4 linked regions of the Homo sapiens genome follow. The protein of the gene in region 3 interacts with the protein of the main gene of each other region in a biochemical or structural test. Each region holds a gene or a part of one and is shown on either strand. Other genes may lie near its edges. The genes, in order: CREBBP, EP300, HIF1A and EGLN3.

Region 1 (8,853 bases), on a different chromosome or scaffold from region 3:
CTCAGTAAACTATCGCAAGAACAAAAAACCAAACGCCGCATATTCTCACTCATAGGTGGGAATTGAACAATGAGAACACAAGGACACAGGAAGGGGAACATCACACTCTGGGGACTGTTGTGGGGTGGGAGGAGGGGGGAGGGATAGCATTAGGAGATATACCTAACGCTAAATGACGAGTAAATGGGTGCAGCACACCAGCATGGCACATGTATAGATATGTAACTAACCTGCACATTGTGCACATGTACCCTAACACTTAAAGTATAATTAAAAAAAAAAAAAAGCAACAGCAAGTCCCCCACGAGAGGGGCGGGTGCAGCCTCCCATGTGGACGGCAGAGAGAGGAGAGGGGCCTCTCACCCTTGAGCGCCTGCTTCCCACTGCCCCAAATAGCAGCTATATGGTGCCTTGGTGTGCCAGGGACCCTGTGCACCCTCCATCTCATCTCCACCGCACCTCAACTGTCTCAGCAGGTGAGGAGGTATTTGTTTTTTTTTTTCTTTTTTTGTTTTTTTGAGATGGAGTTTTGCTCCTGTTACCGAGGCTAGAGTGCAATGGTGCAATCTTGGCTCACCACAACCTCCGCCTCCTGGGTTCAGGCAATTATCCTGCCTCAGCCTCCCGAGTAGCTGGGATTACAGGCATGCACCTCCAAGGCCGGCTAATTTTGTATTTTTAGTAGAGATGGAGTTTCTCCATGTTGGTCAGGCAGGTCTCGAACTCCCAACCTCAGGTGATCTGCCCGCCTTGGCCTCCTAAAGTGCTGGGATTACAGGTGTGAGCCACCACACCTGGCCGAGGTATTTGTTTTCAAAACAGCTAAGAAAAAGCAGTAGGTTTGGGACTTGAACCTAGCTCTGTCTGGATCCCTCCACACCACCAGACCACATTCTGCCTTCTGTCCACCAGGAACTGGCTGGAATCCTGCCTTCCTGGGACTACTCCCCCAGGCCTCTGCCCCCCAACCCCGGGACTCCCACCCCTGGGGGATCAGTTATTATGATTTTGTGCTATTCTGACTTGGATTCTCTGCTTATCTTTTCAATGTGTGTCCTGTTTGTGTTTTTCTCCCCAATGCTGTTCTGCATCGCTTGAAGGCAAAGTCCAAACCTGATGCTATCTTTTAATCTATTTAAGCCTAGAAAGGGACAATCAATATCAAATTGCAACAATTCCATTTCTTTTTTTTTTTTTTTTTTTTTTTGTGAGACGAAGTTTCATTCTTGTTGCCCAGGCTGGAGTGCGATCTTGGCTCACTGCAACCTCCGCCTCCCGGGTTCAAGCAATTCTGCCTCAGCCTCCCAAGTAGCTGGGATTACAGGTGCCCCCCCACCATGCCCAGCCATTTATTTGTACTTTTAGTAGAGATAGGGTTTCACCTTATTGGCCAGGCTGGTCTCGAACTCCTGACCTCAAGTGATCCACTCACCTTAGCCTCCCAAAGTGCTAGGATTACAGGCGTGAGCCGCCGCATCCAGCCAACAATTCCAATTCCATTTCTTTCTCTTTCTTTTCTTTTCTTTTCTTTTTTTTTAGACAGTATCTCACTGTTGCCCAGACTGGAGTGCAGTGGTTTGATCATAGCTCACTGCAGCCTCAACCTCCTGAGCTCCAGTGATCCTATTGCCTTGGTCTCCCAGGCAGCTGGGACTACAGGTGCATGCCACCACGCCCAGTTCACTTTTTAACATTTTGTTGTAGAGATGAGGGTCTCACTGTTGCCCAGGCTGGTCTCAAACTCCTGGGCTCTAGAGATCCTTCCACCTCGGCCTCCTAAAGTGCCGGGATTACAGGCATGAGCCATCATGCCCAGTCCTTTGATTGTTTTTTAATGTGGTATCTGAGACTGGAGAGGGTGAGGTTTGTGGAAAGAGCAGGAAGCCTTAGGTGTGCACCGGAGTGAAGCCCCTTCGTGGCTGGGTGGCTTGTCCTCCTTTGTGCCTTATTTCTTCATCTGTGAAATGAGGACAATTTTTCCTTCCAGGATTGTAGGAAGTGCTATCCATGGGAGGCATGGCAGAGCGGCCTGGTATCCCTAAGGCACTCACTTGTTGAAGGTGATCCCCAGCTAAGTGAGTGCAGGCAGGAGCCACGCTTCCCTCCTTGCTATTCCCCCATCAGTGTCTGAGCTCAGGGTTCTTTGAGTCAGACTGAAGGGAGAAGAAATCGAAAGGAAAGAAAAAACAGGTATCAGTGAATACCAGAATTGATCAAAATGATACAGGTGAGAACAATGAGACAGAAAAAGGGACTGCAGAGCCGGTATATTTTGAGGGTGGAACATGGTGAGACAGGAAGACTAGGGTCTTTGGAGAGTGAGGACATGGGTTCCAGGCCCAGACTTGCCATGTCCGGGTTATTTACTTCTGAGTCCTTGCGACTGAGTTCCCTTGCTTTCCTCTGTAAAATGGAAACCTGTCAGGGAATGGCTCAAGCTCCTGTGCCCACTTCTGTGTAAACCACTCACCAATGGACCCCTGGGGGGCTGCATGGTGTCTCCACTGCCCCAAGGCAGGCCCTAAGACCTCTAGGTGGCTGGACACCTTGTCCCGTTTGAAGAGTGGCCTGGAGCCACCTCAGGCTGGGGCCCACCCTTTTCAGTGGCCTGAAGGCCTCTAGGACTCAGAGCACCTGACACAGCTCATCACTCATTCAGTTTTACAAACCTACTTCTTCTTGCAGAGCACTGTTTCTGTGACTAAGACACCATCTTTGCCCCGAAGGAGCTCACAGACCCTTGGTGAGACGGACACCCAGAGCATTCAGATACAGGGTGTGGCCTGCCCTGTGCCACTGATACACTTCTTGCCATTCCTGTGCAAACTGACTTCTTGAATACTTCCATTTATGGCTTCCAGGGTGTGCTATTTTAACTCCTTGAATATATGGGGATCTCTTTATGTTTGGCCAAGGGGATTAGCACAGTCTCAATGCCCTTGGGATTCTCAAGAGCTATTTGATGCATAAGTAAAAACATGAACTAATTCGGGGGCAGTGGAGGCGGGGAAGATGGGGCAGGATGTGTTATGTGTTCTCTCACAGAGCCCAGAAGTGATATGGGAGCCGAGGAGTGGGCTAGGAGGGCTTCCTGGAGTAGGTGACATTTGAACTGGGTTCTGGAGGATGAGTTAGAATTTGCCAGGCATGTCTTCTCAGCACAGGGACCAGCATTTGAAAAAAAAAAAAAAAAAGCCTGAATGATGTGAACTGCCTACTGGCCAAGTGGGTGTAGGATGATGATGGTGAAGTGAGCCATGTAAAGTAGAAGAGACAGATTCAAGAGCGGTATCACGGCCCAAGATTTTGAGCAGTACAGGTAAACAGAGAAAAGCAGAACGATCACTCAATCTTGACACTCAAGGACAGTCACCATATGTACATACACCTATGTTTTTAAGAGAATTCATACGTGTTCTTTTTTAAAGAAAGACTATGTAGTGTTTTCTTTTTCTATGTCTGGGATTTTGTTTTGTTTTGTTTTGTTTTTGAGACGGAGTTTCACTCTTGTCGCCCAGGATGGAGTGCAATGGCGAGATCCCGGCTTACTGGCCTCCCCAGTTCAAGTGATTCTCGCATCTCAGCCTCCCGAGTAGCTGGGATTACAGGCGCACGCCGCCACGCCCAGCTAATGTTTGTATTTTTGGTAGAGATGGGGTTTCACCATGTTGGCCAGGCTGGTCTTGAACTCCTGACCTCAGGTGATCTGCCACCGCGCCTGGCCAGGGAGTTGTTTTAAACAGATTTTCTCCCTCTCTTTTCGGGATGTTAACTCTGGTGCTGCGTGGGGAGCAACGTGGAGAGCAAAGAACACTTAAGTGAGTAGCTGCCACCATAGCCACCGGGACAGTGCGGGAGGAGCAGTCTCCCAGGTAAAGACCGTGGGTAGAGGGGCGCGTGGCGGGTGAGAGGGAGGAGTCCGCGCTGACTCACGGGTTTCTGGCTTAGGAAACAGTGGAGCTGCTGATACCTTTATGAGGAAGCCGGGCAAGTTTGGAGGGGCAGATAACTAACTGGGATGGGAACACCTCGGGTATTCGTAGAAGTGTCCCGCGGGCTGTGGTCTCGCGTGGGGGACTCCCCAGGCCCGCACCCCTGTCTGGGGCACCTGCGAGGCGCCAGGCAAGTTGCCTGGGGCGGGGAGTGCGGCCTGAGCGTCCAGGCTTAAGCCCCGATGCGCGGGCCCTTCTCCGCCCAGGCCGGCCCTCGCCACCCCGCTCTCACAGGTGAGGGTGTCTGCCCTGCCGCCTTGGGATGCGAACAGGCGTGAGGCCCCCTCACTCCCTAGTGTCACGAGGTAGGGCGGGACCCGAATCCCGGCCCTGCCACTTCCTGCCTCGACCACTTTGGAGCAGTTGCTCGCCCCCCGCCTCAGTTTCCCCATCCGCCCACCTCGTCGGCAGGACCCAAGGGCGGTCTGTAACCTGCAGAGGCCATTCCACTTCCCTGGCCGGCGGCGAAGGCTAGTGGCGCGGCCTGGGCTGGGGTCGCCCCGACCGTTCCCGACCGACGCCACCTAGGAGGGTCTGGGGAAGGGGACGCGAGGAGCTGGGAACACGCAGCGCCGCCCCAGCGGGACGGGCGGGCCCGGGCTGGCGTCGAATCCGCGCCCGAGAGCCCAGCCCGCGGCCAGGCCGCCGCTCCCGGAGCCCGCTGGGGCCCGGAGCCCCGGCCCTCTACGCCTGGTCGCCATCAGAACAAAAGCTGTGGCTCAGCCCGGAGCCCAGGCGCCCCGCAGGCCTGGCCCGCGCCGGGCCGCCAGCTTCCCTACGCTTGGCGGCCGCGCCTTCAGCCCTTCGGCCCGAGCACGCTCGGCTCTTTCCGCCACGGCCGGCGCAGGTGGAGGGGGCGGGGCGGGGGCCGTGCGTGGTGACGCCGCGGGGGGGTGACGCACCGGCGTGCCCCGCCCCCACCCCCTCCCCGTTCAGGCTCTGGAAAGAGAAGAAAAAAAACTTTCTTTTTTTTTTAATTGAGGAATCAACAGCCGCCATCTTGTCGCGGACCCGACCGGGGCTTCGAGCGCGATCTACTCGGCCCCGCCGGTCCCGGGCCCCACAACCGCCCGCGCACCCCGCTCCGCCCGGCCGGCCCGCTCCGCCCGGCCCTCGGCGCCCGCCCCGGCGGCCCCGCTCGCCTCTCGGCTCGGCCTCCCGGAGCCCGGCGGCGGCGGCGGCGGCAGCGGCGGCGGCGGCGGCGGAACGGGGGGTGGGGGGGCCGCGGCGGCGGCGGCGACCCCGCTCGGCGCATTGTTTTTCCTCACGGCGGCGGCGGCGGCGGGCCGCGGGCCGGGAGCGGAGCCCGGAGCCCCCTCGTCGTCGGGCCGCGAGCGAATTCATTAAGTGGGGCGCGGGGGGGGAGCGAGGCGGCGGCGGCGGCGGCACCATGTTCTCGGGGACTGCCTGAGCCGCCCGGCCGGGCGCCGTCGCTGCCAGCCGGGCCCGGGGGGGCGGCCGGGCCGCCGGGGCGCCCCCACCGCGGAGTGTCGCGCTCGGGAGGCGGGCAGGGGATGAGGGGGCCGCGGCCGGCGGCGGCGGCGGCGGCCGGGGGCGGGCGGTGAGCGCTGCGGGGCGCTGTTGCTGTGGCTGAGATTTGGCCGCCGCCTCCCCCACCCGGCCTGCGCCCTCCCTCTCCCTCGGCGCCCGCCCGCCCGCTCGCGGCCCGCGCTCGCTCCTCTCCCTCGCAGCCGGCAGGGCCCCCGACCCCCGTCCGGGCCCTCGCCGGCCCGGCCGCCCGTGCCCGGGGCTGTTTTCGCGAGCAGGTGAAAATGGCTGAGAACTTGCTGGACGGACCGCCCAACCCCAAAAGAGCCAAACTCAGCTCGCCCGGTTTCTCGGCGAATGACAGCACAGGTGAGGAGGGGGTCCGGGGCGGCGGGGGCCCGGGGCGCGCTGTCACCCCCACCTGAAAGAGAGCGTCCGGGGGTCGTGGTCGCGGATACCGATCGAGCCGGGAGCTCGGAGCAGGCCCCGCAGCCCGTTCCCCTCGCCCCGCGCGGGAGGGTGGAAGTTCGTCGCAGGACTGTCACTGGGCCCGAGTTGGTCAGCACACGCCCGGTGCACTCGGCCTCCCCGCACCCGATCAGCCCTCCTCGCGGGGACCCTAGTGGCACTCCAGGAGGGAAGAAGTAAAGTGCAGCGTGTGGGTTTGTTTGGTAATGTCCTACGCATCCATCCGCGGCCGTGTCCACACGCGTGGCCGTCCAGAGGAATGACAGCGGAGGGTACCTTTGATGCTTAGAGAAAGCAAGATCGCGGCCAAAGGTAGGGCAGTGTGTTTTCTGGATTGGCGACACATTGACCAGGCTGCATTCAGAGGACACTCACAGCAGCCGCCAGCTTGCGAGTTAGAACCGAAGTTTCTTGGAATGAGTGAGTTCCTTGGAAAGATGCTTAGTGCTTATTTTCAAAACTCCTTGTTTTGTGTGTGTGTGTGTGTGTGTGTGTGTGCGCGCGTGTGTGTTTTTAGTCAACTAGTCATTCCATTTTTCAAAACCCAAACTTCGTTAGCAAGATGTCATGAAAGTTGCTGTGGTGTGTTTCATTTCCATGTATAACTTCAAAAGAAAGTTAAACAGCAGGTTTAAGTTCATTTGGGCTGCAATCTCCATTTGAGTTTGTGTTGCTTTCACAGTGTAGATGTACAAAGAATTAAGGAATGTAGGAATTCCAATTTTTCAAAAAAATGGAGCAGGATACTGAATAAATCATCTTTTTGTTTGTTTCCTTTCATTAAACGGCTTCCCTGGAAACTTTCTTAAGTTATCATAGCTGCTTAAGAGAAGTATTTAGTTTTCTATTAATTCAGTAATTCTGGGTCCCACTGCGCTGGTTCATGGTAACATGAACTAGTTGTATTTCCTCTTTTAGAGCTCTCTCCTTTGCCGCAAAAACTTGTGTGCCGCTGCGAACAATTCCATCTCCAGCGCAGCTTGCATTTCTCCAGTAGTCTTGCAGTGGTAGCATCTGAAAATCAGTTTCTAATGAATGAGTCCAAATTGAATTACATCGCTGCCTTCAGATTTGCACTAGACACAGCTGTTCAACTTGTGGAAATAGTTCTGTGACCGACCACTAGCATATTAAAAAAAACTGCTATTGCTGTTGAAACAAAACCTGAATTTTGTGGCTTAAGTTTGAATACAATTCCTGGAATCAAGTTATGATAAGCGACGTTTAATATTAATGTAGAAGTGAAAAGCGATTTTTAAAGATCAATCATAAGGAGATTCTTATCTAGTTAAAATTTGTTAAACAGTGGGGAGGAGTAAATGATGCTCATGGTATATAAAAATCACTAATGCTTTTCTTTTTAGCTGATAAAAGTTGAGTTTGACGTTAATCTTATAAAATGAACTTATTGAAGTGAGAAATTTGGAAACAGTAGTTTAAATGCCGTTGTACTGCAAAACAGATCTCCGTTGCTTCATTAATCTTGCTGTGTTTGAGTAGTCTTCAGTTCTGTGAGACGTAGGTCATACGTGGCGAGTTCAGCTTTGAAGCTTGTCTTCTGAAACTGGTAACCTGGATGGCTTTGTAGCTTTGCTGTTGTTGAATGAATTTGTTGTAGATTTTGTCTTAAAAAGGGGGACAATTAGTAACACAAGACTTAACAAAAAGGCATGTCCTTATATGTACATCCAGCTGTTTCCAAGATGGAGCCCAAAGGTTAGCTTTTTCCATAGTAGTGTCCATTATTGGATGATCAGATGCTTAATAAGTTGATCAGAAAGGATTTTCCACACTTAACCACCTTTTCCCCCTTCCTTTACAATTTTGATCCTTGTAAGGCACAGGGGCTCTTTCGTGGGACCAAAAGTCAGCTTTAAATGGCTCCGATTTAATCCAAAGTAGAAAGTCAACATCATACTTAAGTTGGGTCATGTGTTACACATTCATCACCATCACACTATTGTGAAAGGGTCTGTTAGTATGGGGGACCAAGGAAGGGCTCATTATCAAGCACATTAAACAAGGGGCTGCTGGGCGCCATGGCTCATGCCTGTAATCCCAGCACTTTGGGAGGCGGAGGCTGGTGGATCAACTTCAGGTCAGGAGTTCAAGACCAGCCTGGCCAACATGGGGAAACCCCATCTGTACTCAAAATACAAAAACATAGCCAGGCATGGTGACATGCACCTGTAATTCCAGCTACTTGAGAGGCTGAGGCATGACAATTGCTTGAACTCGGGAGGCAGAGGTTGCAGTGAGCCAAGATCGCGCCACTGCACTCCAGCCTGGGTAATGGAGTGAGACGCTGTCTCCAAAAGAAACGAGGGACACTTTGTCTGTTGTAACTGCTCCACTAAGAAATTGAGTAATGAGATGGACAGAGATCTTAGGGATGTATTTTAAACAAATAAATGGCTTGAGTTTTTACATTAAATACATTCAAAAACTGAAGGCATTTGGTTAGGTGGGACAGACCTGAGAATAACATTCTTGAGGAACTCAATCTTATTTTAGTGACGGGATGTGTCTCTGAGGCTCCCAGGGGAAAATTGGGCCTAGTGGAGCAGGGTGTGTGCCCGGTGCATGTGATCAAATTTGAGGGAGGGGACCTCTGTCTAGGAGCTGAGGGGTTGAAAGGAGGAGGAGCCCTTGGCAGCCTGAGAAACAGGATCTACTTGGACTGCAGTGCATGTCTGTAGAGACTGGCCTGTGGGGCCACCAGTGTCACTTAGATGTGTCTGTGAAGGGTGGCAGTGAGCTGAGAGAAAAATGCACCCGACATTGGGGAGCTGCTCAGCCAGGGTGCTGCTCATCTGGGGGCATGGATGTTGCAAACAGCACTCCCGAAGGTCATGCAGCACCTCAGAGTGATGAATGTCACTGCCACTGATGACAAACAAGTTGC
Region 2 (8,618 bases), on a different chromosome or scaffold from region 3:
ATAAATGTGAGCTCCTCTGAAGCAGACATCTTTGAAATCCCCACACACTGCCAGATAATGATAGTTATCAATGAAATAGTTGCTGGTTCTTTGATGTACAATCAGCCAACCAGTATTTACAAGTCTTAATTCTCCTGTTCTTAAGCATAATTAAGGGAGGTGAAATGGGCAGAGCAAATGAAAGCACCATGAATAAATATAAGCCAAGAAATAGGTGGCTAATTCTGCTATCCTGTTGCTTACCTTACATTCTGATTGTATCGTTGGCAGACTCTGCGTGTGTCTCACCTACTTCCCTTTTTTTTCTGCCCAGCTTTCCCAGCCAGCTGTAAGCATTGAAGGACAGGTATCAAATCCTCCATCTACTAGTAGCACAGAAGTGAATTCTCAGGCCATTGCTGAGAAGCAGCCTTCCCAGGAAGTGAAGATGGAGGCCAAAATGGAAGTGGATCAACCAGAACCAGCAGATACTCAGCCGGAGGATATTTCAGAGGTGAGAGTAGGGCAATTACTGTTTGATTTGGTTAGGACCTCAGTATAGGAACCCAAGTTTTAAAAAATATTGCAGAAAAATATTTTGATAATTAGATCTCATGGCATAGATTTTGCATGAGAAAGGGTGTTCAGATTACTGATTCCCAACTAGATATCTTTGGAATACTAAAAATTCTTACGTTTTCTTTTAGTCTAAAGTGGAAGACTGTAAAATGGAATCTACCGAAACAGAAGAGAGAAGCACTGAGTTAAAAACTGAAATAAAAGAGGAGGAAGACCAGCCAAGTACTTCAGCTACCCAGTCATCTCCGGCTCCAGGACAGTCAAAGAAAAAGAGTGAGTCTCTGAAGCCATTCGTTCTGGAGGTAGCTGAAGAAACCAAAGACCCAGGGCAGAATTGCGGTCATGCCTCTTGGGCCTCAGAAGTTGCCATTATTGTGATTTCATTAACCTGGAAGCCCTGGGCCTGGTCTCTTCATTGTTACTAATAATTTTTCTTTCTTTTTTTTTTTTTTAATATTCACTTGCAGCAACCAATGAGTTAAGTCATTCCCCTCATTTCTTCAGGGTTCCCTGTGTTAGTACACCCTAAAAATTGTCTCATTTTTCAGGAGAGAGAAATGTTTGTAAATAGCCTTGACTAAAATGCAGGAAAGAATAGCAATAGTAATAGCATTTGTCATTCACCTGCTGTGTGCTAAGTATCCACATTGTCTCATTTAATAATTTCTTTCTTTCTTTTTCTTTTCTTTTTTGTTTGGAATCGGATTCTCACTTTTGTTGTTCAGGCTGGAGTGCAGTGGCGGGATCTGAGCTCACTGCAACCTCCACCTCCCAGGTTCAAGCGATTCTCCTGCCTCAGCCTCCCGAGTATCTGGGACTGCATGCGCATGCCACCATGCCCGTCTAATTTTTGTATTTTTAGTAGAGACAGGATTTCACCGTGTTGGCCAGGATGGTCTCGATCTCTTGACCTGGTGATCCACCCGCTTCGAGCTCCCAAAGTGCTGGGATTACAGGCATGAGCTACCACACCCGGCCTCATTTAATAATTTCACAACAGCTCTGAGGTTATTGGCCTGAAGCTTAGCAAAGTTAAGTAACTTTCCACAGGTTACTCAGCTGACCCTACTGCCTGGGCCAGGAAGCAGACCCAGGCAGTCTGAGGCAGAGTGCTCAAATCCAGCCATTCCAACAAGTGTTAATTGACTATTTTAGGACTAGAACTTTTGTGGCTCTAGTGATCTGCAAAAGGCACCAGGTAGGACATACCTGAGGAGTGAGTCTGCTGGCTCTTACAGATGATATATATTGAAAAGTGTTCCATTAATACAATGTGTTGTAAAATGTTGGGATTAAAAAATTATTTTCATTTTAAAAATAAGACTTGTATATATTGAGGTGTTTTAATATGGGCTGTAACAAACCCAGTCTTACTATTGGCAATCTCTCTTTAAAATGTGTGTTCCCTCATGCCTGTAATCCCACCGCTTTGGGAGGCCGAGCGGGCAGATCACTTGAGGTCAGGAGTTCAAGACCAGCCTGGCCAATATGGTGAAACTCTGTCTCTACTAAAAGTACAAAAGTTAGCCGGGTGTGGTGGCTCTCACCCGTAGTCCCATCTACTTGGGAGGCTGAGGCAGAAGAATCACTTGAACCCGGGAGATGGAAGGAGGTTGCAGTGAGCCAAGATGGCGCCACTGCACTCCAGCCTGAGTGACAGAGAGTAATTGTCTCAAACAAATAAATAAAATAAAATGTCTAATTTCACAAGTTTATTCAAATAGTCCTTATTTTTAGCACAGCTAAATATGAGTGACAAGCATCTTCGTAGTCTGGTTTCCCCCCACTCCATGGCAACCCCCCAGAGGTGAAAATTATCTGAAGTAACAAATATACTCTACCGATGATGAAATTTTTTTTGCCAATTAAGAAAAAATAAGGCCCTTGCTGAAATTGAAAGCTTTTTAAATCACTGGCTTCTCAAAGAACTGTTTGATTCCATTTGGGACACACCAACAAATTTTTCCGGACTTTTTGGGAAATATCATTGAGAACACATTTGAACTTAATTTGATCAACTAAGTCTATTATTTTAGCAATACCATTTTTGTTCTCTCTTCTTTTAAACTTAAACCTAACATTTGTCATTAAAATAGTACATGTCTCTTTTTCTTTGGCTCTAAAATACCAAGCATTTGAACGAAGGAGTCTTCTCTTCTGTGCCCCTGACTCCTTGTAGTATAAGACAATACCTGATCTAGTCTAGTTTCTGACTTGTTAAATACTGATGTCATGAAGAAAGACTTTTCTGTTCTTGCTTGACTGCATCTCCCTCTTAACACGAGTATCTTGTGCACTCTTTTTTTTTTTTTTTTTTTTTTTGAGATGGGGCCTCATTCTGTTGCCTAGGCTGGAGTGCAGTGGCGCCATCTCGGCTCACTGCAACATCTGCCTCCCGAGTTCAAGCAGTTCTCTTGCCTCAAGCCTCCTGAGTAGCTGAGACTAGCATGCCACCATGTCCGACTAATTTTTTATATTTTTAGTAGAGACGAGGTTTCACCATGTTGGCCAGGCTGAAACTTCTGACCTCAAAGTGATCTGCCCACCTCAGCCTCCACCGTGCCTGGTCCCATGGACTCTTATTTGGCAAAGTCTCTTCATAAATTTTTAGAAGCCTTTGGATTCTGCTTCTAATTGACCGAGTCTGTCTTCACTGACTTTGTGACTGAAAAGTTAAGCTGAGGGTGAAGAGTGTTTTAAGGTGATAAGACACAATGTTTTTTAGGAGCTGTCTGAAACAAAGCGGGGCTTAGAATCTAGAATCAGTGATTGAGCCTGTAGTGATATTTCCATGGGGACAGAGTGGTTAATTTTGTTATTGATTCTTGAGATGCTTTTAGAGCTTCAGGCTGAATGATTTTTTAAAGTTCTTCTGCTTAATTGGTAACTAATTTCAAATGCACTTTTTTTTTTTAAGTTTTCAAACCAGAAGAACTACGACAGGCACTGATGCCAACTTTGGAGGCACTTTACCGTCAGGATCCAGAATCCCTTCCCTTTCGTCAACCTGTGGACCCTCAGCTTTTAGGAATCCCTGTAAGTATTTGGTGGTACTTTTGATTTTATTTTTTAATTTGATAACAGCTTTATTGAGAGATAATTCACATTCCAAACAGTATAGCCACTCATTTCAAATTTGTAATTCAGTGATTTTTTTTTTTTCCCCCTGAGACAGGGTCTTATTCTGGTTGCCTAGGCTGGAGTGCAGTGGCACGATCGTGGCTCACTACTGTCTCCACCTCCCGGGCTCAGGTGATTCTCCCACCTCAGCATCCTGAGTAGCTGGGATAACTACATTCATGTGCCACCTCACCTGGCTAGTTTTTTGTATTTTTTAGTAGAGACGGGGTTTCGCCATGTTGCCCAGGCTGGTCTTGAACGCCTGGACTCAAGCAATAGGCCCATCTCAGCCTCCCAGAGTGCTGGAATTACAGGTGTGAGCCACTGGGCCTGGCCTAATTCAGGGAGTTTTAGTATATTCACAGAGTTGTGCATGACACTTTCATTTTCATCATCTGAAAAAAATCCTTTACCATTAACAGTCACTCACTATTTTCTCCCATAGCACCCCAATCCTAGACATCACCAGACTGCATTCTGTCTCTGGATTTGTCTGTTCTACATGTTTCATTAAATTGGAACATACAGTATGTGATTCTTTGTGCCAGGACGTTCCTTAGCATAATGTTTTCAAGGTTCATCCATGTTGTAGCATGAATCAGTAGCACATACCTATTTATAGCCCAATAATATTCCATTATTTTTCTTTACCTGTTGATGAGTTGATAGACATTTAGGTTGTTTACACGTTTTGACTATTAAGATAGGACTGTAGTGAACATTGTGTGGATTTAAGTTTTTATTTCTCCTTGGTATTTACCTAGGAGTGGAATTCCTGGGTTATATAGTTTGTTTACTTTTTTGTTGTTGTTATTTGTTTTTTGTTTTTTTGAGATGGAGTTTCACTCTTGTTGCCCAGGCTAGAGTGCAATGGCGCAATCTCAGTTCACCTCAACCTCCCCCTCCCGGGTTCAAGCAGTTCTCCTACCTCTCAGCCTCCCGAGTAGCTGGGATTACAGGCATGTGCCACCATGCCCGGCTAATTTTGTATTTTTAGTAGAGATGGGGTTTCTGTATGTTGGTCAGGCTGGTCTCAAACTCCCAACCTCAGATGATCCACCCACCTCGGCCTCCCAGAATGCCCAGATTACAGGCGTGAGCCACCGCACCCGGCCACTTTCGTTGTTTCAAGAGCAATAGGTCATAGCAGAAAAAAGGACCGTGGTTAGCTTTGTTTTTAAAGTTGCCTCCATATACTAGGCTGCTGGCAGATTTCATTTGGTGGTTTTAAACTGTTACTTGGCCGGGCACGGTGGCTAACGCCTGTAATCCCAACACTTTTGGAGGCCAAGGCAGGCAGATCACTTGAGTTCAGGAGTTGGAGACCAGCCTCACCAACATGGTGAAACCCCATCTCTACTAAAAATATAAAAAGTAACTGGGCGTGGTGGTGCACGCCTGTAATCCTGGCTACTTGGGAGGCTGAGGCAGGTGAATAGTTTGAACGACCCTGGGAGGCAGAGGTTGCACTGAGCCAAGATTGCACCACTGCACTCCAGCCTGGGCAACATGTTGACAGAGACTCCATCTCAAAGGTCAAGTGCTTCCAGGGGCAAAAGCCTTTTAGGACTTTTCCTCTCTTGTATCTTGCTGTGATTTCAGATGGAACATTTTAAGTTCTGTGGGCTTAGTTTCCTCATTGTACACCCCTTCTAGTACTAAAATTTTAAATGTCTTTGACTTTACTGATCTCACATGTACTTTCATAAAGAACCTGAAGTTGCTTCAGTAGAATATCAGCCTGATGTCTAGAAAGTCCATAGTAGTTCTGTTTCTCTGCCCTTTGAGTAGTTTAATATCTCTGTAAACTAATATTTAAAGAAGTGATGGACATCAGTCACCTCTTGGGGAATATAGACAGGCCAGAAACTAAAACACTGCCTGGAAAATTAACAATGATAATGGATGATACTCCATCTCCCGTAAAAATAGTGAGACTTGAGTAATGTTTGATGTCACTTGTCTTTCTAGGATTACTTTGATATTGTGAAGAGCCCCATGGATCTTTCTACCATTAAGAGGAAGTTAGACACTGGACAGTATCAGGAGCCCTGGCAGTATGTCGATGATATTTGGCTTATGTTCAATAATGCCTGGTTATATAACCGGAAAACATCACGGGTATACAAATACTGCTCCAAGCTCTCTGAGGTCTTTGAACAAGAAATTGACCCAGTGATGCAAAGCCTTGGATACTGTTGTGGCAGAAAGGTAAGAAATGTGTTTCAGATTTGACTTTAACTTTTCTGGGATACCTAGAATAATATAGTGGTGACTGGGATAAGAGAATATCCTGCTTCTGGCTTTGACATGGCTTTTTTTTTTTTTTTTTTTTTTCCTTTTTGACAGGGTCTTATTCTCCCAGGCTGGAGTGCAGTGGTGAGGTCATAGCTCACTGCAGCTTCAACCTCCTGGGCTCAAGCAATTCTCCCACCTCAGCCTCCTGAGCAGCTGGGACTACAGCCGTACGCCACCATGCCTGGCTGATTTTTTAAATTTGTTTTGTAGAAACAGGGTCTCATGATGTTGCTCAGGCTAGTCTTGAACTCCTGGGCTCAAGCAGTCCTCCTGCCTCGGCCTCCCAAAGTGCTGGAATTACAGTCATGAGCCACCTCTCCCAGCCAACACAGTCTTTCTCTTACTGTGTGCCACAGTAGTAATATCTCTTAATATGAAATGGGCTTTCTTTAAAGGCATTTTTTCAGAGTGGCAATTGTATGGAAAAGTTGACTAATTAAATAATCAACAGACTGTTAACTCATCTGGAGTAGGGGCATTCTTATATTCACCTGTGGGTGCAGATTCCTCAGCATGTGCTGGCTTTCCTGTACATACCAATTCACATTATTGGTTTTTTGTTTTTAAAATAAGACTATGGTCTTGCTGTGTTGCCTAAGCTGGTCTGGAACTCTTGGGCTCACGCAGTCTTCCCACCTCAGCTTCTGAGCACTGCAGGCATGTGCCACCCTGCCCAGCTATTCCTGTTAGGTTCTTTGGTAAAGTGATGGAAGGATATGACTGCTAAGCCTACCTCAGCGTTTTGAAATAATGTGGTAGTAAACTGAGAATGATTTTCAGGAACTGAATTAGCCCATCATTATTAACATAAATGAGAACTAAGACACCACTGACTTCTGTTTCTGACTTGCCATTCTTACTGTTCTAGCTTGTCCTTAAGGCCTCTGTGCTTTTTAACAAATGGTTTCTTTTGCAGTTGGAGTTCTCTCCACAGACACTGTGTTGCTACGGCAAACAGTTGTGCACAATACCTCGTGATGCCACTTATTACAGTTACCAGAACAGGTAAGCTTGGCCAGGTGTGGACCATGGTCCATGTGTCCACATGTCCAGGGAGTGCATGCGGATGGGCCAGCACACATACAGTCATGGTTCATGTGTATCTTGCTTGAAGACAGCTGTATAGCACAAGTTCTGTTTTTTGCCTTCTGCCTTTGTTTGCAGAACAATAAAATTTTCTATCAGAGTAGCCTTGCATCAGTTACCTGGGTTCCTCCCAAGAGCTTGAGAAGTTAAGCAACTTTGTGAGTTGTTGGCCTAGATGGGTCTATATCCCAGGCCCCACTTCTCTTTCTACTGTGTGTTTGTTGATCACCACAGCCTGAGGCAAAACTGAGAAGATTTTTAAACTTTTAACTGAAACTCGCTAGACAGCTTTTTGGAAATATTTCCTTTTTAGATGAGGCCTATCCCTAAGTAGTTGTTATTAGAATATATGAAAACAGGATTCTGGAGTCTTTTCTTTGCCTCATATTAAGCAAATTAAAAGGAAAACCTCACATAGCTCTCTGTACCTTACTTTTCCCAACCCAGCCTTGTATGTGACAGAGGATGATTTGAGTCTAATAAACGAGGCACCTCTGCCTAATTTTCTCCTGCCCAATCAATGGCTGTAATCACATAAATCTCATTCACTAATCTATCTTAACCACAATTTGTCTCCTGTTTTCAGTGATCAGCTACAAGTATAGCTTGCATTGGGTGTTTATTTGGGGCTCTGATACAATAATAACAAGGCTGGATGATATTAATACCCTTTATTTGTTTGTTAATACCAAATCCATGGTGTTGGTTTTTGCTGAACTTGTGTGTTGCAGATGCATTTCTAGCTTTGAAAAGTCACTTAAACTTTTTCTTTTATTTACAAAAAGTTAGGCGTGCTTCTAATGCTTTGTAGACCTAATGCTTTGATTTTGCAGTGAGTAAAAATCTAGCTCTTTACTCATTTGAAACCTAGAAAAGGTGGGACTCAAGTTGTTATAAGTACCTTATGTTTAAAAAAGCAAGTAACTGGACATGAAACTTTTCTCATGTTTACTAAAACAGTAGTCTAAAGTGTTTATCTTTGCACCAAGCCATCTTTAATCAGGTACCTGCACACATCATTTCCTTTTGAAATGTATCACTTGATGGCTGTAGTCAGTATTTAACTGCTTGTGCAGGCTTTTCAATAAACAGTTTTTTTTCTTTCTTTGTTGAGACAGGGTCTCACTCTGTCACTCAGGCTGGAGTGCAGTGGCGCAATCTTAGCTCACTGCAACCTCTGCCTCCCGGGTTCAAGCGATTCTCCTGCCTCAGCCTTCCAAATAGTTGGGATTACAGGTGTGTGCCACCATGCCTTGCTTATTTTTGTATTTTTAGTAGAGACAGGGTTTCAGCATGTTGGCCAGGCTGGTCTCGATCTCCTGACCTCAGATGATCCACCCTCTCAGCCTTCCAAAGTGCTAGGATTATAGGTATGAGCCACCACGCCTGGCAATGGTTGTTTTAGATTATTGTTTTCTGCAGTTGTATCTATAGTGGGCTTTTGGGGTGGGGGGTGGGGGTCTGTGGTTTTTTGTTTTGTAAGTGGGAAGAGGTGTGATTCCTGTATTTAGGTAATGAGTAGCAGTTCTTCTCTCCCTGGTATATTTATCCTTCTT
Region 3 (8,720 bases):
TACCTCTGTGTAGTGCCAGTTTTCTATCCTTATTATATATTGAATCATACTTAATACAATGCATTAAATTATGTACCACTTTTTTTATATACAGTATCGAACTCATTGTTTTGCCATTCATCCGTTCAGAATATCAGAAGCAGTTTTGAAACGAATTAATAAATTAGCTACTGTTCATCAGCCCCAATTCTAAATAAGCTCTTAGATTTTCCTCAGCCCATCTGTTACTTTCAAAATTTTCTCATTTGAAAACTTGGCAACCTTGGATTGGATGGATTCATATTTCTTAGTATAGAAGTTCTTGATATAACTGAAAAATTAAGTTAAACACTTAATAAGTGGTGGTTACTCAGCACTTTTAGATGCTGTTTATAATAGATGACCTTTTCTAACTAATTTACAGTTTTTTGAAAGATAACTGAGAGGTTGAGGGACGGAGATTTTCTTCAAGCAATTTTTTTTTTCATTTTAAATGAGCTCCCAATGTCGGAGTTTGGAAAACAAATTTGTCTTTTTAAAAGAAGGTCTAGGAAACTCAAAACCTGAAGAATTGGAAGAAATCAGAATAGAAAATGGGTATGGTTATGATACTGTAGATTTAACGCAGGACATTTCATGTTGTTCCTAGTTATAGGGGCTGAACTTATTTAATAGCACGTGCATTTTGATTTTTAGATTTTTAAGGGAATGTCAAGAGAGTAATGATTCTGTTTCAGGCTTCAGGCCAGACTCCTTCAGAGTTTTCCAAAACAAATAATTACTGAATCATTAAAGTAAAATTTCTGAGAATAGATATTCCTTAATTTCCTTCATTAACTTTGGCCATTAAAAGTCAAGAAGCTCTCTCATTTATTAGCAAACTTTTCTCCTTATGATTCTATTTTGATTGTCCTTTTGTTTGAGGAAGCAGCATATGGTGGTTAAGAGCATAGGATCTAGAGGCAGATACCTCTGAGTTAAGGGTCCCAGCCCTTCACTTGTGAGCTTGAGCAAGTTACTGAATGCCTCTGAGCCTCTTTCCTCCTTTTGAAATGATGATAAGAATAGCAGCCATCTGAGCAGTTATTGTAAAGGTTAAATGAGATAATGCTTGTGAAGCACTTAGCCCATTGCAGGAGTCTTGATGACACTGTGTACTTGAAAATAGATGTTACCTGTTAAAATTCTTGTTTAAACTTCCACAACTCTTAAAACTCTTTTTTGCTAGTCCTTCCAGCTGTTTCCTTTAGTTTCTTTTCTGTGTCTTCATGCATCTTTTCTATCTCCTGAAAGTGAAAAGACTAACATTGGATCCAGAGCTTGAAAAGCGTTTTTTTCCTGTTACAATGGGCAAAAGAGTACATCCTTGGGTTATATTGGCACCTAGTATCAGTTATTTTTCTTGAGCATCTGATCTGCTCTCTACTCTAGTGGAGGCCTCCTGCTTCACAATTGCTCACCCCTGTGTTTTCTCCCCAAATAGAATACTGAGTTTACTCTGGACTCTAGAGTCAAACATACACAGTATTCTAGTCTTACTGTTCATTTAAGCAAGATATGTGCAAGACACTGCATTCTTAGTACTGGCAGTAAGTTAAAACATTTTTCGTCTTGATGCCAAAGTTTAGACAATTTTATAAAAATTAACCTTTGTAAAAGATAATGAGTTGATAAAATATTCTCAGTAAAGCAGCTACGTGGTAGAAAAACTGTCCTTTGCTTATGAGTTTCTCCAGAGTTAAGACCATTGGGTTCCATCTGAAGGCAAGACTTCAAGCTTGTCTTACTGGTCTGTTTTGTGGCTCAATTTGTATGAAGTCTATGCACTCTTCCACACGTGTGTATTTACTGAACTATCGAGTTATTTTAGACTGAGAAAGTATTGGAGTTCATTCCTACGGTCCACTGCAGAGCACCTTGTGCAGTTTGGAGAATGTCAACTTTTCTACCTGTTAACTTCCATTGTCTTTACTTTTAACGCCATTGTCTGTGACTCTAATGGTGTCACGGCTCAGGGTTTAGATTTTGTGGTTACATTCTATTCTTGTATGTCAAGAGTGGTGTATAGAAAGCTGAGGGGGATTATTTAGTCTCTTGACTGATTTTTTTTTTTTTTCTGAAGAACTCAGTTTATTATGTTTGGTGGTGAAATAAAAATTGATGTGCATGGATGTTAAAGATTTGGGTTAAATTGTGTGTTCATAGATGCCTTCTCTTAGTATATAATTTTTTAAATTTAGATACTTAAAATACTGTATCCCTTTATCTAAGATTAACATAAGTCTGTTTCTTAACCAGGATAAAAAAATCTAAATTTAAATGTGATGTTGGATGAGTTTCCAATCAAGAAATTGATTTTTTAAACTTTGTGACTAGTTATCCAGTGGGTGGATTTTACCCAGTGTGTGTATGTGTTTTCTGCTTAACTCTGGAAGGTTAGAAAGAGAATTTGAAACTAAGACAAGCCAAGCTTCTTGTTGCTCAGTATTTTTGGTAAAAATATGGTCAGATTGTTTAAATTAACTATAGGCTTTGGAATTTTAAAAATAATTATATCTCTTGGTCTCTTGACACATCAAGAATTAACTGTTTTGTATATGCGTTGAGTATTAATGTTCATGTTTTCTGCAGTAGAAATTTATAAACCCTTATTTATTTGCCAGACATGATCCCTTTAGAGAAATCTAGTATCTAAAACCTGAATTTTTAAAACAAAATTTAAAATTTTTGTTTCATAAAAACAAAAATGTGATTACCTCATGGCTTTTTTCTTATAGCTTTTGATTGTTTTTTAAAATCGTAGTTCAAAAACATTAACCTAAAATTTACCATCTTAACCATTTCTAAGTACTGTTCAGTAGTGTTAAGTATATTCACATTGTGCCACTAACTTCCAGAACTTTTTCATCTTGCAAAGCTGAAATCTTACCCATTAAACAACTCCCAATTTCCCCCTCTCCTCAGCCTCTGGCAACCACCATTTTACTTTCTGTTTCTGCAAATTTAACTACTCTAGATGCCTCATATAAATAGAATTATAGGGTTTTAATATTTTTGTGATGGGCTTATTTCACTTTGTGTAATGTCCTCAAGGTTCATCCATGTTGTAGCATGTGTCAGAATTTCCTTCCTTTTTGAGTCTGAGCAATATTCCATTATATGTTCCATATTTTGTTTCTCCATTCATCCAGCAACGGACACTTGGGTTGCTTCCACATCTTGGTTATTGTGCTGCTCTGAACATGAGTCTGCAAATCTCTCTTTGAAGCTTTCACTTTTTTTGGATACATATCCAGAAGAGGGATGCTGGATCATATGGTAACCCTTTTTAATTTTCAAGGAACCACCATATTGTTTTCTATAGCAGTTGCACCAGTTTACATTCCCACCAACAGTGCACAAGGGTTCCTATTTCTCCACATCCTTCTAAACACTTGTTTTCTTTCTTTCCTTCCTTCTCTTCTCTTTCTTTCTTAGCCATCTAATGTGGCAAAGTGGTAGCCATCTAATATGTTGAAGTGATTGTTTTTAAGGGCTTGTTTGTGGATAATTAACCAGCTGAAAGCTAACTACAGTTTGCCAGTGGAAGCTTTAACTGAAAGGAGAGTAAGTACCTCTAAAAGGAGAATTCAATTTTTCTAGTGACTTAGATTTGTTATGCCAGTACTTTTTCACAGAAACACTTTTTGGGTAAAATAGTGTACACCTGTTCTATTGTTGATAAAGCCCAATTTAATTAGGAAATTTGTTCTCTAAGATTTAAAACAATAATTGAAATAATGTATTTTTATTAAAAACTGTTCCCAAGATGTTAGCTTTTAGCTGTTCTGGTGATCTCAACTGTTATTTATGAGTGTTTCTTTATTTTAAAATTTCACCTTAACCGGTTACAGTTTTAACCATAAAGATTATTTCAACATATGATTTTGAAAATTTATTATCTTGTAAATGGGAAAATGTAGTGATGGAACATAGTTTACTGTATGTAGTTCTTCACTTGTTTGAAAAGTCACAATATATTTAGGCAAATTAATTTAAAAGTGTCTAGTATTTAATATTGCAATTTTCACTCATTAAGGACAGGTCCCCCGTGTTTCCCCCTTTTTTTTTTCCAAGTAGTTTGGGAGGATTTGTTTTTCCAGCTGAAAAATACTATGGTTAAAAATAAGGTTTAAAGGCGAAAGTTGAAGTCTTTGAGGGTTGGGATACGTTTCTGTTCTTAAGAGTCTTGTAAATTCAGATGCTAAGCAAATTTCTTTAAAATGATTTCTACCCTCCCCCTTTCCATTATAAAACTGGATATGTTTCAGTGGACCAAATCCCAAGTAGGCTGAATTTGAAATTTGTGGGCTGGGCGCGGTGGCTCATGCTTGTAATCCCAGTACTTTGGGATGCCGAGGTGGGTGGATCACCTGAGGTCAGGAGTTCGAGACCAGCCTGGCCAACATGGTGAAACCCCATCTCTACTAAAAATACCAAAATTAGCCAGGCGTGGTGGCGGGTGCCTGTAATCCCAGCTACTTAGGAGGCTGAGGCAGGAGAATTGCTTGAACCTGGGAGGCGGAGGTTGCGGTGAGCCAAGATCGCCCCATTGCACTCCAGCCTGGGTGACAGAGCAAGACTGTGTTTCAAAAAAATTAAAAAAGAAATCTGTGGTGTGAATACTGGTACGTGGTGTACACAGTGAGCTCTTAATAAGTATTTGAATTAACAAATGAGACAATGATTGAATAATTGGATGAACAAAGAGAATGCAGGTTTTTAAAAGGTTTCTTTAGAAATATTGTCGGCCCGGCACGGTGGCTCCTGCCTGTAATCCCACCATTTTGGGAGGCCGGGGCAGGTGAATCACCTGAGGTCAGGAGTTCAAGACAAGCCTGACCAACTTGGAGAAACCCCGTCTCTACTAAAAATACAAAAAAAAAAAAAAAAAAATAGCAGGATGTGGTGGCACATGCCTGTAATCCCAGCTACTCGGAGGCTGAGGCAGGAGAATCGCTTGAACCTGGGAAGCAGAGGTTGCAGTGAGCCAAGATCGCGCCACTGCACTCCAGCCTGATGACAGTGTGAGATGCTGTCTCCAAAAAAAAAAAAAAAAAATTAAAAAGAATGTTTTAATTCTTTAGTTCCCTGTCTGAGATTCACTGATTGGTAAGAAGAAAGTTAAAGAATCTCCTTTGACTTTTTTTGATATAGATATTTAAATTCTATTACTTTATAGTAAGGTTGGGGTTTATTTTCTTTGCTTTATAATAGAAGAGCATTGATTATTCTCTTTGCTTTATAATAGAATACCATTTAAATAGGAGTTCCCTGAGTGTGTTTACAATCATTTGATCTGGCTAAACTATTTTAATGTTAATGAAATTTTAAAATTTTGGAGGAAAAAATTTAAAAACTACACAGGTGCACAAAGAAATAAAAATCACCTGCTTTTTCACTATGTAGAGACCATTGTCTACTATTTCTCAATTCTGTGTTACATCTGTATGTTAATAACTGTAGGATTAGGGACTGAGTACTGTTTTTAACCTGCTTTTAAAAAATTTACATCTACATTTTTTCCCATCTAAATAGTGAGGAAGAGTATCAGAATTTTGTAGGCTTGTGGTGATGGTTAAATTAGATAATATTAATGTTGGGTACTTAACATAATATATGGCTCTTAATACTCTCCAGATTTCAGATATAGTCTGTTTTACCATTACTGCCTTTTTATCAAACCTATTCTCAAAAAAGTGAGAAAAGTGCTGAGATTACAGGCGTGAGCCACCATGCCCGGCCTCATGGTTCTTTCTTAATAATAAATTAGAAGAAGTAGAATTACAGGGTCAAAAAGTATCCATTTTAAAGCTTTCAATGTAATTGCCTGTTTATCTTCTAGAAAGTTTGACCTAGTTGTATTTTAGAGTGTCATTTTCTTGAACTTTATCATCATTAAAGTTTTAAATTTGGAACACTGGCAATTTGATAAGTATATTAGGATTCTTCTTATTGCAAGTAGCAAAATACAACTCAATCTAGTTTAAGAGGGGAAAATGTAGTCATTGGCTAACACAATCTAATTTTGGTTTAAGAGACAAATCTAGAGTCTCAAATGATCTCAGAGTGTAATAATCCCTGACTTTTGTCTTGATATTACTTGGCTTGTATACCTTTGCTCTATTTGCATGCTGGCCTTACTCTGCCACTGACAGGCTGTCTGTATGGTGTGGAAGAGGACGGCTAGCATCCCCATACCTGCATCCATACAGTTTGTAATATAAAAAAAAAAAAAGTAAAAAAAACTCCCTCTCTCTTCTAGTGTCTATATATCAGTTTCCTAGAAGAAAACGTTTTGCCCTACTTGGCCATGTGAATGGAGTTCCCTGATTACATGAGTCAAATATGTCTTATTGTAGCATATTTGATGGTCTTCTTGTAGAATATTATCTTACTATACACAGAACTCTTGACCAGTAATTAATGGGCCATGAGTTTTTGTTGCAAGTCATTTGAATTCATATTCTATAGTTTTCTACCAAGTGTAGTCATTCTGCAAGCTGTTCTTGTCATGACTTTTGGGAAGTTGAGTATTTCTTCTATGGGTTAGGGTTTTCATCTCAAGAAAAAGATGATCCTTTTCTCTACTAAATATGTGTTAAGATCACACATTTTTCTAGATCGTTTAGCTCTACTGTGTGATCTTACACAAATTGCTTTATTGGGATGATAAGAATAATTGCCTTATAGGATTGTTATGAGAATGAAATGATACATCAACTCATATGAAACACTCAGAACAGCTCTTGGCACAAAGTAAGGGCTTAATTAAGTAGAAACTATCCATATATTCATAATATTATAGTATTGGTTAAGTTGTTTTCAACATTGTTTAGAATCGCTCAAGCCTTCTTTGTGATAATCTGACGAAGGCTATTCACCACCAGTGAGTAAATAATAGTGGCAGAATAGTTACTGATGCTTTTCCTTTACTTGGTTTTTTTTCCATAAACATCTGGCCTTTGCAGACTAAATACTGGTTTATGTATAGACATGTTATTCTAAAATAATTTTCCATAGTGGTAATACTAAAGGAAGAAAAATGTTCTCAAAGCTATTTATTTGGGATGTTAAAGGAGGGGGAAATTAAGAAAGCCTACATTTCCATGTCCTTTGTGTCCAGAATCTCATTAAATGTCTTTTAACTTGTTAGCAGAGGAAAGTTGGATATTGCCTGCCTTTGTAGCTAACATAGTTAAAATATTTAAATGGTTATAGTGTCAAACCAGTAGTCAAAGCCTTCACTGTGAATGGATGAAGGGATATTTTCTTGAATAATTTAAGTTGACTTATTTCAGTGGTTCAAAAAATTTCTTCAACGCTTAACCATGACTCAGGCACCTAACTATTATACTATGTCCTGTAACAGATTGTTGTGCATTCATTTATTCAACAGGTATTTGTGCAGCTAATTTATTGAGTACAGCATTGAATCGTTGATGGCTTAGGCCACAGTTGAACATTCCATTTTTTATGTTCATTCATTCATTCATAGCATATTCCATTTTTAAATTTTCAGTTCATTGCACTTTAAAGTTTGAGGTTCTTGCGAAGTACAGACTTTTGGGTTTAAGTTTTGTTATTTAATGTCAACCACCACAGGCGCATTGGCCAGTCTGCTTTTAGAATTTTCAGACATACATACACAAAACATTCTCACAAGACAATCTACTTATTTTCTTTTTTATTCCTGTGTTTCTTAACACAGGATTAATGTTCAGATCTCTTTTGGAGCAAAATAATCCTCTGAATTTTTGAGATGTACCCAGTGACCTCAGTCTGAGTATGTATACTGCATTAAAAAATGTAACCTTGTTCCTTTTAGTGGTCATTTGGTAACAGTTTGATCATAAACAAATGCAGCCTCAAACACAGAAGGCTTGAGGCAAGTATACAGAACTATGGAGAGATCATTTAGATGATGTAGAATATGCCTTTTCTTTTTTTACAATGCCACCAAAATGAAAACACGGTTTTAAAAATTCTCATAGAGTGTAACTTCAACACTGCTTTAACTCTATTAAACAAAGCACTGCCATGTTGTAATTCCTATTTATTACTCTCTGGAGTTGTATAAATTACCAAATCCGCCTTTTGTTTGATATCCTTTTCAAATATCTGAGGGTAGCTATCATGTTTCTTCCTTCTATTCTTAAAAAATAGTCCCAAATTTCTTGAATCTTTTAATTTAAAAATTATATATTGAGCATCTGATTTGTGGAAAGGCATAGGCCATATTAAAAATGGGGCTTCATATTAAAATGGGGAAAAGGGTGGAGATTCTCAGGTGGAATCTGAGATCTGCCACACACTAATAGTGTTACCTAACCCTTTTTAAAGACAAAGAAACAGGATCAGAAGGTCACTTTGGAAAATTTATTTGGTAATATTGGATAGGATGGATTAGTATAGTTGGAAAACAGAGACTCTTGCTTTAGGAGAGCTGCTCCTTTGTCATTTCCAGAATCTTAATCATGGTCAAGGTTTAGAGCTAAATATTTAATAGAAGAAGTCTTTAGGGTATGCTTTCTATTGTACACCCTTATTTCAATACATGTGTTTTTTCCTGTTATGTAAGTACTTTATTATTATTTATGCATCTTCTATTAAAGTTAAGCAAATAATTATTTCAAGGACACATTCTTCTACATACACACAAAGTTTAGGGTCACTGACCTTCTTAGGTTCTAGTCTTAGAT
Region 4 (5,068 bases), about 28 Mb from region 3:
CAACTATAGACAGCTTCATTTGAAAAGTTTATTTCCTCTGGGCACGGTGGCTCACGCCTGTAATCCCAACACTTTGGGAGGCCGAGGCAGGTGGATCACGAGGTCAGGAGTTTGAGACCAGCCTGGCCAAGATAGCGAAACCCCGTCTCTACTAAAAATACAAAAATTAGCCGGGTGTGGTGGCGGGCATCTGTAATCCCAGCTACTCGGTAGGACGAGGCAAAGAACTGCTTGAACTCGGGAATCAGAGGTTACAGTCAGCAAAGACGGCGCCACTGCACTCCAGCCTGCGTGACAGAGCAAGACTCTGTGTCAAAAAAGAAAAGTTTATTTCTATTCTGTTCTAACAATACTTTCTAACCACCTTACTAACCAACTCTTCATGCCATTCAAAAGATTCAAGACTGTAGCTAAGTCAATGTTGTATCGTTTTAAAAAATAACTTTACTAAGAATATCCCTTCTGCTTGTCCTCGTAGTCGATCAAATATATAAGTACCTGACATATCCAAACTCCTATCTTATATAAACTGCTGGCCCAGCATGGCATTTCCCATCATTGCTTTCTAAAACACAGGAAATTTCAGTACTGAATGGCCAAAAGAAATTAGGACGACCCAGCCTCTAAAAAACCTGAGTTAAAGAAAAACAAAATCATGTCTGAATGGATAATTCATGATTCTGACAGTCCAGCATTTAATGGTATTAACTACTCTACTAAGGATCTATCTAATGCACTTAGGTAAGACTTTTTATTTCCATGAAATTGGATCTTTGGTTCAAAATTTAATCTCCTACCAAGAACTCTGGACTATATAAGTGACATAATGGTGAGGTAGGCTCTTAATATTTCATTGCCGGGAATATAAATGAAATTGATCAGATTATTTGCCAAATAATGTTTCTTTAGCAGGGCTAACTCCTCCCCTAAATGGGCTGTCAAAGAGAGGAGCAAAAAACAGACTCCTAGCATTAAAGTTGTATTTTCCAGCTTAATTTTCCAGGACTCAAATTGAGTCATTAAAAAAAAAAAAAAAAAAAAATCAGTGCACATAAAAAAAGTGGTTTGTTAGCTTATAGGACCTTTGTCTGGAAGGAATAAACAAAGCCTTGGAGGTCAGATCTTTTGGCATATTGACTAAAATGAAAAATACAAGACATGCTTTTGGAACTATATGATCCTCCTTCAGAATATTGTCACTATCATTCTTATGACATTAGAAATCATGAAAAATATATAACTACAATTTTACAGAATACAAAATTCCTAATAAACTTCGTCCTTTCTTTCCTATTGAAATTTTTCAAGATTGTTCGAAAGGGGAATTCACTCTGTCCTATCTGAGACTAATGTTATTTTACTAATGTTGTTTCTAGGATATGGAAGGGCAAAATATAATTTGTTCAATTTTCAGATTCATAGTGGTCAGTGAATGACCTATTCATGGGTATACAAATACGAAGCAACACTATGACCAAAGCGTTCTAAAACTCTTAGCGTAAATGTGTAAGTCAACAATGTTAAAAAGATGTGTGTAAAAATTCTAGCAAGCCCTTCCTGCCAAAGATGGAATATATTAATCAAACCATTAGAATGCTAATGTAGGAGACTGAGTTTATTCAACAAGTATTTACTGAGCCCTTACTATGTTCCCGGCACTATTTTAGGTGCTGAGAGTATGTTGCATTGGTTAAAAATATACAAAATTCCTGTCTTCATTGTGCTTACACTCCAGAGAAAGGATACAAGACAATAAACATAATAAGTGAATAAATTACATAGTAATTTAGAAGGTGATAACTATTACCGTACAACAAAATAGAGCAGTCGTTGAGAATTAATGGTGACATGTCTTATCTGGAAATTTTCCAAAACCAGAAGAGGAAAAAGTAAACTTCTATCTTGGAAGACTATATATATATATATCCGTACATAACAAAGGAAAATATTTCTGGCTCTTTAATGTTCATGGGATTTTCAAGCAAGAAATTAAAGGGATTTTTAAAACATGAAAGTAATACTGAAAACTAGGAAAAGTAGCTTTTGCAAAATACGTGCTCAATACCAAGTTATTGAGGCAGTGCGATCTGTGCTTACTGCAGGAGTAGAAGCTTCCACAGTTCTAGCAAATTCCATGATTCTGGTCATACTGCCAACCACAGTGGATCTAGAGAGCCAAGTGAGCTGAAGAAAGACTGCTAGGGACAGACGAGAACTCAAATAGCTTTGAGATTTTTTTATTTCCACTTCCTTTTTTAAAATACATCACCTTGCTTTTTTTGTGTTAAAGGGTGAGCTCATTAAAAAGGAAAACTAAAAAAAAAAAAAAAAAAAAAACAGGAACACCCACATTTCCAACTCCACCTCCCCTCTCAAATTGTTCAAGATGCACACATGTTTATTGTATATCAGTAGACCTAGCTCTTTCCACAGTTATCAGTGGTTAACACAAAACTACCAGGGATATATTTTTCCTTTCATTTAAATTTAAATTCCATTCCAACAAAGCAACCAAAACAACTAATGTCTAGTTTTTTAGCTTCTGGGGAATTAGGTTCCCAGGTAAGAACTGAAAATGGAGAAAAAATTGTGTTGCCATCTTTATTCAGAAAGTCATTATTTTCAGCAAAATGGGGCTGAGGCAGAAAATCCAGGTTGCAGGACTGGGAAAAAAGGAGTGTCTGCCCCATGGGACACTTATAAATTGTTCACTATGACAGCAGCCCTTTCTAGAGGTATTAATGTCATTAGGTTGTGATAATTCTCCAGAAACCCCAACAGCCCTGGATTAAGAACATCTGGAAATTGTTCAGATGACACAAATTTCTCTGTTTCCTGCTGTTAAGGCTTCCGTGATGCCTCTCTGTGGCATCTACCACCTCCATTTTTTTCTTTTCAAACCTCCTCCTTTCAAATCAGGAAGTATACATAAAGTGCAAGTAAGGTTCATTCCCTCGCTGTGCTCCTAGGCTCTTCTCTTGATAGTATTACCGAATCTATCAGGTAAACCGCTGGCCGAGTAGGATGTCTGCAGGAATTTCTGGAGTTAGCAAGTAACTTCATCTGGCAAAGAGAGTATCTGAAGATCAACACAGTCTTGGCAAGAAAACATGAAGTACCACACACAAGACAGGGATGTGAAGGATGCAAGAAGTAGCAGGGAGATTGTTGTCACTGAAGAGGCCATCTTTGGATCTCAAAGAATTTAAGAGAATTCAGGAACCGTTACTAAAATGAACAAGGCCAGCAGATTTCAGAGCACGGTCAGTCTTCAGTGAGGGCAGATTCAGTTTTCCCTGGGTTGGGGACAGAAAGGAGAATAAAGAGGGTATGGAGTCAGCTCTGATGAGTTTTATGTCACAAATGTCACCAAAAAGCCTCCAGTAAACACTTCCCATCTTATATAAGCCTCCTAATAGAGCTCTGCCAAAGGATTCTCTCTTGACTTTGCAATGGGATCTTTCCCATATGCCTCACAGACTGTGGAGGAACTTTGGGTTTACATCCAGCATTGGCACCTCTTGGGCTAATGCTGAGCATAAGTTGTATGAAGTGTAGCCTCACTCACATATCAGAGTTAAGCAGTGTAGGCCATCTGGAAGAGAAAACAAACTGAGATTTCCTGGGTGCAATTTGGAGACCACTTTGGTATTTGAGAGGTATACAGTCCAAATGGGTTATGGGCTAGGCAATATTATATATGTTTCCTTACTGCAGGATCTCTTAGCGCCTTAATTTAATATGCTAGTGAGCAATGTGACTCTTTTTAAGACAGGCATACAGCATGCAACATTTCCCACATTTTTGGGACCAGGAATTTACCAAATTGGCAGGATTTGTGTTTTAATGCAACGTATTTTGGGAAATGCTGCCTTCTAATACTGGTTGGAAGGGATAGGAGTAGTGCTGTTATATTCAGTTTATATTACATGAGCCCTGCTGTTATACTGAGAGTCACAGTCTCACCCAATATAATAAATTTTGCCATCATAACTGGGTTCCATTATATTTCCTTTGCAATATGCCAAAAATCATGGGCAAAATTTAATGTTACATTTGACTGGTTAACATTAATAGGAAAAAGTTAACTATTTCCCATCTATCATAAACCATCATACATTCAGTGGGCATTCTCAGGGGAAGCCCCTTGCATTGTTTCTGATTTTTCTAAGAGCCCTAAGGCCAAGGTTTCAGGATAAAACCCATCAAGATGTCATTATATATAAAGCTAAGCCGTAACAGATTGAACAGAACATGTTTAAAACTACATAAAATTGAATAAAAGTCAAGGATTAACTTGATCAAAAGTCACAGAAAATTATCAAACACATACTAGTTAAATTCCTGAATTTCTTTTTGGCTTCTGCCCTTTCTTCAGCATCAAAGTACCAGACAGTCATAGCATATCTGTGAAAGATAAGCAGATATAAGGAAAGAGATTTAATGGTACTACTAGAAACACAAATGTCCTATAAATCTCACATTAAAAGTTTTAAAGTTTTCTCTATTATTAGAAGTCTACCCTGATTTATTTATTTATTTATTTATTTATTTATTTATTTATTTTTTGAGATGGAGTCTTGCTCTGTTGCCAGGCAGAGGCGTGATCTCGGCTCACTGCAACCTCCACTTCCCAGGTTCAAGCGATTCTCCTGCCTCAGCTTCCCAAGTAGCTGGGACTACAGGTGCACGCTACCACACCCAGCTAATTTTTAAATTTTTAGTAGAGATGGGGTTTCACCATGTTGGCCAGGATGGTCTCGATCTCTTGACCTGCCCACCTCGGCCTCCCAAAGTGCTGGGATTGCAGGTGTGAGCCACCATGCCCGGCCTGTCTACGCTGATTTTAATTTAAAATTAACTTCTCTGGTTTTAATTCTATTTCAATGTAATAAAATGCATAAGGAATTCCAGGTATGTGCCAGAAATTATCTTGGGCATTAGGAATTCAAATGACCCTGTGATCAGATCTTCCTCTGCGATCTCAGGCTCCAAGTAGGGGAGACAGGTGATTTTGCAATAATGCAACAGGTAAACATAGCCTCTACAGAAAGGACTAGAAGGGAGT

What was found.
Region 1: the proteins of HIF1A (region 3) and CREBBP form a complex in vitro, tested with the Homo sapiens proteins (6 studies listed by BioGRID and IntAct, with this or other methods).
Region 2: the proteins of HIF1A (region 3) and EP300 form a complex in vitro, tested with the Homo sapiens proteins (25 studies listed by BioGRID and IntAct, with this or other methods).
Region 4: the proteins of HIF1A (region 3) and EGLN3 form a complex in vitro, tested with the Homo sapiens proteins (5 studies listed by BioGRID, with this or other methods).

Annotation. Positions count from the first base shown.
Region 1 is NC_000016.10:3,876,828-3,885,680, reverse strand, and holds the start of CREBBP (CREB-binding protein), read left to right. Parts: upstream 1-4,967; 5' UTR 4,968-5,764; coding exon 5,765-5,849; intron 5,850-8,853. UniProt on the Homo sapiens protein: Acetylates histones, giving a specific tag for transcriptional activation. Mediates acetylation of histone H3 at 'Lys-18' and 'Lys-27' (H3K18ac and H3K27ac, respectively).
Region 2 is NC_000022.11:41,151,520-41,160,137, forward strand, and holds part of EP300 (histone acetyltransferase p300), read left to right. Parts: intron 1-313; coding exon 314-493; intron 494-686; coding exon 687-831; intron 832-3,475; coding exon 3,476-3,594; intron 3,595-5,649; coding exon 5,650-5,889; intron 5,890-6,892; coding exon 6,893-6,981; intron 6,982-8,618. UniProt on the Homo sapiens protein: Functions as a histone acetyltransferase and regulates transcription via chromatin remodeling. Acetylates all four core histones in nucleosomes. Histone acetylation gives an epigenetic tag for transcriptional activation.
Region 3 is NC_000014.9:61,697,379-61,706,098, forward strand, and holds part of HIF1A (hypoxia-inducible factor 1-alpha), read left to right. Parts: intron 1-333; exon of another isoform or gene 334-472; coding exon of another isoform or gene 473-576; intron 577-8,720.
Region 4 is NC_000014.9:33,922,627-33,927,694, forward strand, and holds the end of EGLN3 (prolyl hydroxylase EGLN3), read right to left. Parts: intron 4,408-5,068; coding exon 4,334-4,407; intron 3,297-4,333; coding exon 3,265-3,296; 3' UTR 1,601-3,264; downstream 1-1,600. UniProt on the Homo sapiens protein: Prolyl hydroxylase that mediates hydroxylation of proline residues in target proteins, such as PKM, TELO2, ATF4 and HIF1A. Target proteins are preferentially recognized via a LXXLAP motif.